2 separate regions of the Homo sapiens genome follow, and region 2 is linked to region 1. A link means that fine-mapping ties the variant in region 1 to the expression of a gene that starts in the linked region. Tissue or cell type: whole blood. Region 1 holds a variant in brackets; the other region holds the start of a gene. Each region is shown on its reference strand, or each on the opposite one. Region 1 holds the start of FFAR2 (free fatty acid receptor 2). Region 2 holds the start of ATP2B1 (ATPase plasma membrane Ca2+ transporting 1).

Evidence for each region. PIP is the estimated chance that this variant, and not a neighbour inherited with it, causes the effect.
Region 2: it holds the start of ATP2B1, and the variant in region 1 is fine-mapped to the expression of ATP2B1 in whole blood (TOPMed, PIP 0.97).

Annotation. Positions count from the first base shown.
Region 1 is chr19:35,447,277-35,452,640 of GRCh38, reverse strand. It overlaps FFAR2 (free fatty acid receptor 2), which reads right to left and starts at 4,384. Exons shown (of 2, transcript NM_001370087.1): 1 at 4,262-4,384; 2 at 874-2,927. The coding sequence starts at 2,926. The coding sequence ends at 1,934. The variant A/T (reference allele first, on the strand shown) is at 2,295.
Region 2 is chr12:89,706,274-89,711,637 of GRCh38, reverse strand. It overlaps ATP2B1 (ATPase plasma membrane Ca2+ transporting 1), which reads left to right and starts at 2,800. Exons shown (of 21, transcript NM_001366521.1): 1 at 2,800-3,042. It overlaps ATP2B1-AS1 (ATP2B1 antisense RNA 1), which reads right to left and starts at 2,683. Exons shown (of 1, transcript NR_028138.1): 1 at 1-2,683. RefSeq lists silencers at 1,562-2,111, 2,132-3,151, 3,302-3,531 and enhancers at 3,722-3,821, 3,832-3,921.

The DNA.
Region 1 (5,364 bases):
TCCTTATTGTGGAAAAATGAGCTAGGCAGGTAGAACTGGAAGGGGAGAGAGAGGACAAAGCAAGGAAAAGAATGGTACAATATGAGTTCCTTGGGGGAAGCACTTTTTTTTTTTTTTTTGGAGACAGAGTCTCGCTCTGTTGCCCAGGCTGGAGTGCAGTGGCGCAATCTCGGCTCACTGCAACCTCTGCCTCCCAGGTTCAAGTGATTCTCCTGCCTCAGCCTCCTCAGTAGCTGGGATTACAGGCACGCACCACCATGCCCGGCTAATTTTTTTTGTCTTTTTAGTAGAGATGGGGTTTTACCATGTTAGCCAGGCTGGTCTAGAACTTCTGACCTCAGGCGATCCTCCCGCCTTGGCCTCCCAAACTGCTGGGATTACAGGCATGAGCCACTGTGCCCAGCCGGACGCATCTTTTTAAATTAAATTTTTAAAATTGAGAGACAGGGTCTCACTGTGTTGCCCAGGTGGGTCTCCAACTCCTGGGCTCAAGTGATCCTCCCACCTCAGCCTCCCAAAGTGCTGGGATTACAGTCATGAGCCCCTGCAACTGGCCAAGGAAACATTTTGATGATAGGAAAGCTCTGCAGGTTTCTGAGCAGGAGGGTGACATGTTTTAAGGCCCTGTGGCAGACAGATGACTGTGAATCGGAATCACCCTGCATCCTTTCTAAGTCCGGACTCTCTATTCATCCCTCGAAAGACGATTCCGTCAGTGCTCTCACTTCCTTTGCCCACACCACCTCTTTATCTTAAGATGTTTCTGTGGTTTCAGATGCATCACTTTTCCCCTTTGCTGCTGAATCTGGTTCTCTCTCCTATTTTTGCCCTCCCTGTGCTTGCAGCAGTGTTACAAAAATTGTGGACATTCACTTCAGAGTTTTATCATCTTTATTTTCAATTTGCTAGACCAGGTTGCTTTCCCCTGTATGAGGGAGTGCCAATCTCTGATTGCTGGGTACCAAACCACATCCTGGCCTGTGTGGGGTACCATGGAGGAAGGAGATAAGACCCAGACCCCTGGCAGCTCCCAGTTTAGCAGGGGAGACAAGACAACACATGAAAACAAACAGAGCACATCAAAAAGGCAACAGGTCAAACCAATGCAGGGAAACCCCTATCATTAAAGGTCTAAGCCCTGAGGCCTCCCTGCTCATCTCCAGGCTCAGAACCTTTCTGAGTCTTCTTTGACCTCATTTAGTATTTCTCTTCCATCTCTCTCTTGTTGGTTTATCTCCAGGATCAACCGCTAGAGCAGTGTCTAGGTGTTGCTTTGAAGCTTGTATCGAGATTTCTCTAGGACTCTCTGCTTCAGCCTGGCCATCCCCAACTACCAGCCACATCACAAGGACTGGACTTGTGTTAGCTACGCTGCTTCTCCAGCCTGAAGGTGCTTCTTTTTTTTTTTTTTTTTTTTTTTAAATGGAGTCTTGCTCTGTCGCTAGGCTGGAGTGCAGTGGCGTGATCTCAGCTCACTGCAACCTCCAACTCCCGGGTTCAAGGATTCTCCTGCCTCAGCCTCCAGAGTAGCTGGGATTATAGGCATGTGCCACCATGCCCAGCTAATTTTTTTGTATTTTTAGTAGAGACGGGGTTTTCCCATGTTGACCAGGATGTTCTCAATCTCCCGACCTCAAGTGATCCACCTGCCTCAGCCTCCCAAAGTTCTGGGATTATAGGCATGAGCCACCACACCCGGCAGGTGCTTCTATACCTAACTACTTCTTCGTGCATCTCTGACTTATGCTCCTTTGAGTAGGACAATTCAGTCAGGAAGGGATACCAAGCTGGTGAAAGGCATTTTTTTCAAAGTCGCAGTCCTGGGCTGGGTCTAAGGATTTCTGAATCTGGATGGGAGCCTTCCTGCTCCGCCTCTCCCAGGCTTCCCAGCTCCTGTGTAACCCAGGCGACCTCTGAAGGTCCAGGGAAACTGCTACTCTGTAGTGAAGTCCGAACTTGGCATCCCTTCTCCTTGACCCACACCCCTGTCCTCATTTGTCCCCTCTGCTGTGTCTTTGCCTCTGCGTCCCAACAGGGAGGAGCCCTGATTCCGCAGCACCTGCAGCCCTCTCCCAAATGCCCTGCGCACCACTGAAGAAGAGAAATAGAAGAGCAGGGGGTCCAGACTGGCGTTGAGTGAACTGAACACCACGGCTATTGACCGCCACCAGGGGCTTTTTCTCTGGTGATACCCCACCAGGTGGGACACGTTGTAAGGTCCGAAGCACACCAGGAAATTGAGCAGCGTCACCACAGCCAGCCCCACGGCTCGGCGCCGCCTCTGGGCCCCCACA[A/T]GGGGCTGGGAGAGCATGATCCACACAAAACGCCAGTAGCAGAAGATGGTGACTGCCATGGGGATGAAGAAGAGCACCAGGCACAGCTCCAGCCGCACGGGCAGCACCACGTCCAACTGGTTATCGGTGAAGTTCTCGTAGCAGGTAATTTCATTGCCACTTCTGACCTGCTCAGTCGTGTTCAAGTATTGAACGATGATCACGATGGTGCAGTGACCAAAGGACATAACCCAGGCCACCAGAGCTGCAATCACTCCATACAGAGGCCGGCGGGAGAGCTTGTACTGCACGGGGAAAGCCACTCCCAGGTAGCGCTCGATGCTGATGCCCGCCAGGAGCCACGTGCTGCAGTAGATGCTGCTGTAGAAGCCAAAACTCGTGAGGGCGCAGACGACCTTGGGCAGGTACCAGCGGAAGTTCGACGCAGCCTCGATGATCTTGAAGGGCAGCAGCAGCAGCAGGAGGAGGTCGGCCAGCGTCAGGCTCAGCAGGAGGATGTGCACAGGTGCAGGCTGGGGCTGGCGGATCCGCCCCACAAAGGCCCGCAGGGCCAGGAGGTTGGCAGGGAGGCCAGTGAGGAAGATGATGATGTAAGCCATGAGGATCAAGGAGCTCTTCCAGTCCGGCAGCATCCTGGAGGGGAACAAAAAAGGGCGGGGTCAGGGAGGTCTCACTCACAGCCCGCGCAGCCAGCTCTCCTTCAGGATGCGGACATCCTCCCCGGCACCGTCCCCTTCCCAGGACTGTGCTTTCTGATGCCACCACGGCTTGCTCACACCACCTGCTCGAACTACCCAGAGCAATTATTGACTTTGCCTGGGGCGGGATATTAAGCAGTAGTGATTATGTTTGCCATCATGTGTCTCTGGAGGAGACCAACTCGTGGCTTCCCAAGGGAATTCCCCCTCCAGTTTCCCTAGCCTTTCTCCTCCTGTCCTCACAGATACAGGAAGTTACTGTTGCCAGTTTCTAACTTTACTCAAGTCCCTTTCTCAGACAGAGACCTGCAGGAGAGAAAGGCATCAGTGCCGGGAGAGAGCTGTAAGATGCTTATCAGTATAAAGAGGCTGTGGCGCCCCAGGCGCGGATACCCAGTGCCAGCTCTCCAAAGGACCCAAGTGCCCAGCCACCAGCCCAGCTTCCTACTTCCGTTCGTCTGTTTTGCAGAGCACAGATTCTCCCCCACCTTGTCCTCTCCTGTCCAACACCAAACTCTGGGACTCTCTAGAAAAGGGGAAGCTGGGGCTGGGCGCAGTGGCTCACTTCTGTAATCCCAGCACTTTGGGAGGCCGAGGCGGGCAGATCACCTGAAGTCAGGAGTTCGAAACAAGCCTGGCCAACGTGGTGAAACCCCATCTCCACTAAAAAAAAAAAAAATTAGCCGGGTGATATGGCGGGCACCTGTAATCCCAGCTACTTGGTAGGCTGAGGCAGGAGAATCGCTTGAACCGGGAAGCAGAGGTTGCAGTGAGTCAAGATTGCGCCATTGCACTCCACCCTGGGCGGTAAGAGCAAAAACTCCGTCTAAAAAAAAAAAAAAAGAAAAGAAAAGGGGAAGCTGGGAGGCTTAGAGGAGGGTGGAGGGGAAGAAGGATGAACCAGCACTAGCCTTAGGAGGAAGGCTTGTCCCTAGAAGACCTTAGAGAAATATTCAGAAAAGCCCACAGGCCTTCACTGGCCCTTGAGCGTGGCATTCTGACCATAAATAGAACTCGTCTTCTTCACGGGGTAACTCAGTTTCCACTTGGGGTGTCACCCTTGCTGGCCCCAACCCAGGTCCTGTCCCTCTGTCCACTCTCCAGCCTTGATTTCCTGGCTGTTTCCTTGCTCCTCACACTAGCTCCTGTCTCTGGGTATGAGTCTTCCATTTGGTTCTGACATCCTTCCTCCAGTCTCCCAGAACCTTCCCCTCAAACCTGATCCTGGCCTCTCTTCCCAGAGCACAAGCACTACACTAGCTGCCTTGCCTTGTGTTGTTCCGGATAGGTGGCTTCTTGGGATTGGTTCTGAAGGGAGGTCTGCAAGCTTCCAGGAGAGAGGAACAGAGCTTTAGCCCCTGCTTCTGTCCATGCCATGCAGGAAAAAATGGTGAGGAACCTGGCTGGTAGTAAGCATTTATACTAGCACCAGCCACGTGACCAGAGAAAGGAAGGTCAGTCTTTAAGCACTATTTCCTCTCAAACCCAAAGGAAAGGCCCAGCATCTTTATTCTCTCCCTAGAGAATCCTCACTCTTGACTTCCAAATTCAGATTTTTCTGTCCTTAATTCCTGATTTAAAAAAAAAATTCCCAGGCATTTTTCTTTTTTTACTTCCCAAGTCAGATTATTTTCTTTTCTCTTTCTTAGGCAGTTTCTTCTGTCATTCTGCTCATTCTCAGAAATGAGCTTTCCTCCTTCCTTTTTATTTTTCCTCTTTTTTTTTGGTTTTTTTTTTCGAGGCTGAATCTTGCTCTGTTGTCTAGGCTGGAGTGCAGTGGCGCCATCTCAGCTCACTGCAACCTCTGCCTCCCGAGTCCAAGCGATTCTCCTGCGTCAGCCTCCCTGGGATGACAGGCACCTGCCACCACGCCCAGCTAATTTCTGTATTTTTAGTAGAGACAGGGTTTCACCATGTTGGCTGGTCTTGCACTCCTGACCTCAAGTGATCCGCCTGCCTTGGCCTCCCAAAGTGCTGCGATTACAGGCGTGAGCCACTGCACCCGGCACTCCTTCCTTTTCTTCTTCAATTTTTTTACTTTCTCTATGGTCTCCTGCCCTCTGCCCCCAACACATTTCTTTTGCCCGTCTCAGCTGAAACAGGCTGGTCCTGGCCTGCATCTTGTTGTGATGGAAATGGTGTGGGAGTTATAGTCATGCAGATATGGGCTCAAATCCAGGTCCCTTCATTACAACCTTGGGGGCAGATCCGTTTTCTGAAGTCTAGTTTGCTGTAGTCAAGTGAGCATGCGAATTCTGACATCCTAGGACTTCTGCGAGGATTCAGTGAGGTTGTGTATATAAAGCACTTAGCAGATGCCCGTAAGTGCTGCCTCGTCTCAAGCCTGTAACGCAGCTTCACAGAGAGTGAGC
Region 2 (5,364 bases), not on the chromosome of region 1:
AGAATAAAAATATAAAAACCAAACTACAGTACAATTTTCTTGACTATGACAGTAAAAGTTTGTCATTGCATATGACTCACATTTCATTAAAATGCATACAAATATGTTCCGGGATACACACACACACACGTTTTCATTTATGGATATACATGAATATATATATTCCGTATGTTTCATTTATAGATTTATCGATATAAATGAAAACTTAATTGAATCGTGTTCTTAAATAAAGATGCTCAATAATTGTTTCATGACCACAACACTTTAAGAGCATTCATTTTATAATCTGGAACTGGAACAAACCCACAAAGTGAACAGATTCTAGTTTATTACCCATTTTGCTAGTGTACTATAGCAATGATTCACATATTACTTTAATGTCAAATTCTTGATTAAAGTAGAATACATAATTCAACATTGTATTGTAACTTCCTTGGAGGAAAAGTTGGAAAAAAGCCAGTGATTCTTAAATGTCTCTGAGTCGTTTTGAAAGATATTTTAGGGGGAAATAATATTGAAATTTATTAGGTGAAATTTAGGTTATTCTTCTGTTAAAAAGATTTGAAATAGTGTCAGGAAGGGCTATTTATTGTACCACATTAACCAATTCTCCATCAGTGACTGAAGAGAGGAAAAATGCTATCATTCTGTTCAATGTTCGTTTATCTTACACATCAAGGGCACAGCTCAGAAGGCTGGTAATGTCAAGCCTAGTGAGATACATAAACTGATAAAAAAATTATTTGCAACAGCATTGATTTATATTTATTCACTTTTAAACGTCTTTTACACATTTTGTGTCTAATCTTTTAAAATATTTTAAAACAAATGCTATCATCAGATCGTGAACATAATACCATACTTCCTATTGCCTGTATGCTTTTGAGGAGGCTATATAAATATTAATTTTCCAGTTCTGGAATTAAGAGAAAGAAGATTGCAGAACTTATCTTTTTGTTCTGATTAACTGATACTGAAAATAACACTGACAAGGTCTCTGGGCCAGTGGCGACGGTGAGTTCAAATAAAGATTAGATGAAGATGAAGCGCGGTATCTTAGGTAAGATACACATCTTTACTGTGTATATGCGTGTACAAGAAGGAAAACTTGCTTTTTTTTTTTTAAGTAGATGTTACGAAGGATGGTTTTTTTTTTTTTTTCAACTTGCAAAATCTCTTGAAGGTTGGAGCAGAGCCGCCGGTTACCTTTGAGCATCGAAATACCGCAAGTTATCCCGTTTCCTTTTCCCCTCAGGAAAGATGGGTGCAGGGTTGAGATGTTACAAGAGAATTAAAAGAGAGCCACCAGCTTGGCATAGTAGAAGAAACAAACCCAAAATGAAAACACCCGGATTTTAAGCGCGGATCCTGCGAGGCCGGTTTGCACTGGCCGAACGCCTGCGTTAACCCTTTGGGCGCCGCAGCTGGGATCCCCGGTGTTTGCGGACCCGACCGGCAGGAACAGAGATGGAGTGTCCCGCGCCCGCATGGGGAGTGAGCTCTCTTCCCCAAAGAGGGAGCGAGCCGAGAAGCACTTTTTCCTCCGGTGCGTGCGTCACGGCCCGGGACAGGCGTCGAGTCCGGTTTGGAGTGGGGGCAGAGACGCGGCGAGGAGCCGCTCAAATGTCCGCTGACTGGGGGTTCGCCTTAATCTGTCCTCGCCAGGAGCGCTCGCCCTCGCCCTCCCGCTGGCTCGCTCCTGGGCCCTGGAGGGGCATGGGCCCGGGGGCGGTTCGGGAGGGGCCCCAGGTGAAGGGCGCCCGCACTTCTCCTGCGGCAATCATCGCTCTCCTGCCTCCACACGTCGCGGCAGCGGCCCGGCCCCGCGCCGAAACAGCAGCTGTGACTGACGGAGTCACCTCCCCGCGCGCCTGGCCACCCCCTCCTCCCCCGCCGCTCCCTCCTGCACCAACACGTCATGGAAACACGGACGTCAGAGCCTCTCAGCCAATCGCAGGCTGCGGCAGGAGGGAAGGGGCGCGCTGGAGGGGGCGGGGGCAGCGGCAAGCCAAGGCGCTCAGGGGAAGGAAGAAAGGGAGGGGCGTGCGGAGGCGCAAGTCCCCACCTCCGCCCCTCACTCCGGCCACCCTTTCCCGACCGCGCGGCAAGTTCTAATCGCCAGGCGCGCGCTCGCCAGCCGAGGGCGCGCTCGCCGGGTCCTCCCCTTAAACGCCCTCCCAGTGCCGCTCAGCTCCCAGTCCCGGTCCGAGCCGCGGTTCCTCCGCGCGCGCGCGCGCGCACTCGCCCGCCCCCAGGCTCCCCGCGGATCGCGTCACGTGACCGCGCTCAGCCAAGGCGGCAGCGGCGGCGGCGCGAGCTTCGGCGGCGGTGGCGGCTGTGGCAGCGGGAGCAGCTGCGCCGCCAGCGTGGAGCGGGAGGCGTGTGGGTGTGGAGAAAAGGGAGCGCCAGACCGGAACGGGTGAGCGTTCTCCTCCCCCTGCCTACCCCGGCAATCTTGCAGGCCACCCGGTGCAGACGGGGTCCCTGCCCGGAGCTGCGCGCAGCCCCCTCGTGCTCGGCCGTCCGCTCTCCGGTGCCCGCGGGCCCCGCCCCGAGTGGGGCGGGCTGCGGCGCTCACGGAGGTGGCTGCACCCCGCCCGCGGCTGCTGTTGCGGACGGCGGCGTGAGGCCGGCTGAGCTGCCCGTGCCGAGCGAGCGCGGCGCGCCCTGTGTGCCGCTCTGCGGAGCCGAGGAGGCGGGTCCTGCGGGGACGCGGGCGGCCACTCGGTGGCTGCCGGGCTCTGGGCGGGGACGGCCGGGCGCCGCCTCCTCCTCCTTCGCTGCCGCCGCCGCCTCCTCGCAGTGCAGCGTGAGTAGGGAGCCCCGGCTGGTGGACGCCGAGCCTCTCGGCTCCTTGGCCGCCCCATCCCCGAGGTGCAGCTGCACCTCCGCGTGGCGCCCCGAGCCCTGCGAGCCGGCTGCGGACGCGCTGAGGACGGAGCCCCCATCCTCTGCGTTTCCCGCTGCCCCTTAACGCCCCGCGACCCTCCCGCAGCCTGCCTTTCCTTCCCCCTCGGAAAATGGTTCCCACTGCCGGGCGAGGTGAGTGGCGGCCGCCGCCCGCCCGCGGCCGGGGGCGGCGGGGCAGGTCACCTGCGGGGGAGGCCAGGCGGAGCACGGAGGTCGGGCGTCGCGGCGGGGATCCTGATAGCTGGGTGCGCAGCGGGTTGCGCCGGATTCGGGAGAAGCTGACGGGGGCGGTCGGGGCCCCTCGCAGGTTGCCTCTTGCCGGGAGATTGTGAAGGTGAGCGGGCTTCTCGCCGTGCACCTCAGCGCCGGGTCAGTCTGGGAGTCGCTGCTCCGGGCCCGAGGGATGGGGCTTGTTGGGGCTTCTGGTCTACACCCGCAGGTCTTCGGCTTCACGAAGCCGCCTCGGCCGCGCCACAGCCCATCCCGCCACCGGTCGCCCCCGCCACGGCGCGTGGTGACCTTGAGGGCACCGTGCCCGGCACTCCCTCTCCCCGCGCCCCGGGAGGGTCACCCCTCTAATCCTTGGCCTCGGCCCCCCAGACGCACTGCGGGAGGGGAGCGGGGGCCCCTGGTCGGCCCCTGGCCCTGGTGGTTGATTGTTGGCGTGTCAGGACGGTGATTCCTCGGGAGTTGGAGAGCCGCCTGGTCTTTCTCCTCACGCCTTCCGTCTGGCCCCCCAGGATGTTCACAGTTGTTTCCGATTCGTGTTTATTCACTTAGTTTAAGAGAAAAAAGCCTGCGCCCCCACCTCCCTTTTTGAGGAAGGAGTCTGTAGGAGGACCGCGTTCCAGTGGCAGGGGTGTGGGGTGGGGGCTGTGCTCTCTTTATCCCATCCTGCGGGAGAATCCTGTGGCTAAGCTGGTTAGCGACCCCTGGTTCTGCGCCGCGGTCACCAGCCAGGTTGGTCTCTGTGCGCATTTCATTCACCAGTTTTCTGCGGGACTCGCAGCGCTGGGAGTGCTCGCACCCTGTGCGCTGCTTGGCTCGGAGGGGAGGGCAGGGCGTCCGGGTGGGTTAAAGGGGTCTGCAGGTACTTGGAGGGCTCGACCCTCCTCGACAGGCTGATATTTACCTTTTCTTTGGGTTAGAGCGCTGCAGACAGCCACCTTTCGCTTCTGTGCCCGCTACTTTTCTTGGTTTATTAATAATCTAATGGCTTCTGTTGGTATCGATTGCTGTTCGTGATAAATTAGCTACATAGATTTTTTTCATACGTGTGTAGGTATATGCATATATCTGAACTTGTCTGCCTGTCAACATGGAAGCCTTTGTTGTGTTTAACCTCCCCCACCTGAGGACAGTCTTATTTTAAAATAAGGCTTTTGTTCAGCGTGGGTGTATTTTATAATAAGAAGTACTTGTAAGGGCCTGGTTTGTATGAGGCTCTCATCTGGCAGAGGGTGTGTAACCCTTTGGATGGTGGCCCACGTGAGTGAATGGAGGGCCTTCACCACTTGCCCCGATGCCAGCCTTCCCGAGACTCCCTGTCCTTGTGTGTGGCAGGGGTGGATTGGGGGAATTAAGAGGGATTGGAGGAGAATCTGCTTTTTGTACTTGTGCGTTTCATTTGGGTCCTCCTCCTCCCCTCTCTTTTTCTTTATCCTCCTGGTGAGTTCAAATTTGAAGTAAATAGAAACATTTTTTTTTTAATTGGGAACCTTTGATAGCTAGTATATGAAATGGGCTTATTTAGCTATGATTTCAGGAGGACGTTTTAGTTTTTACCTTGCTTTAGATAAGACAGCTAAATTGCTGTAATTAAGGGTGGATCTCTGTCCTGATTTTGGCTTGGGTGTAACTGCAAAGATCTTTGAAAAGTAACTGTTAATTTCCTACCATATAGTCTGCAAAAGTGAGTCACATTCGGGTGAGTTGAGGACAGAGCGCCACCTTTAATTTAAAATTTCGTGATTTTCTTTTATTAAAATGGTGAAAATTCGGGGTACGCCTTCTTGATTTTTATCGCAGCTGTCATTATTGGCATCCCCATTTTGACGTGTAAGGGGGAATTGTCTTCATTTTTCTGTATTCTCTCATTTCTCTTTTGAGAGAAATTTCTGCAATTGTATGGGAAATCTTTTTTTTATTGAAGCTTGGGATTTTAGCATTCTGAGATGAGATGAGAAACTAGTTTTGATTTGTGTTTATAATAATATTGATGGTCTGGATATTCTTGGTAAAAGAAGGAAAGTAATAGCTGCTTTTAATAGGTGGTTTGAACTAGCCATTGCCACCAAATAAAGGTACCTACCAGTATGACAGTGGCTTTACAATTTTTTTTTTTTTTTTAGCTGTAGGCCTATTAACAGATTCTAAAATAAACACGCAGGATCAGATATAGTAATTCTTTTTTGTTGTCTTCCAACAACTTACCTTTTGTGATTTTACTGTTTT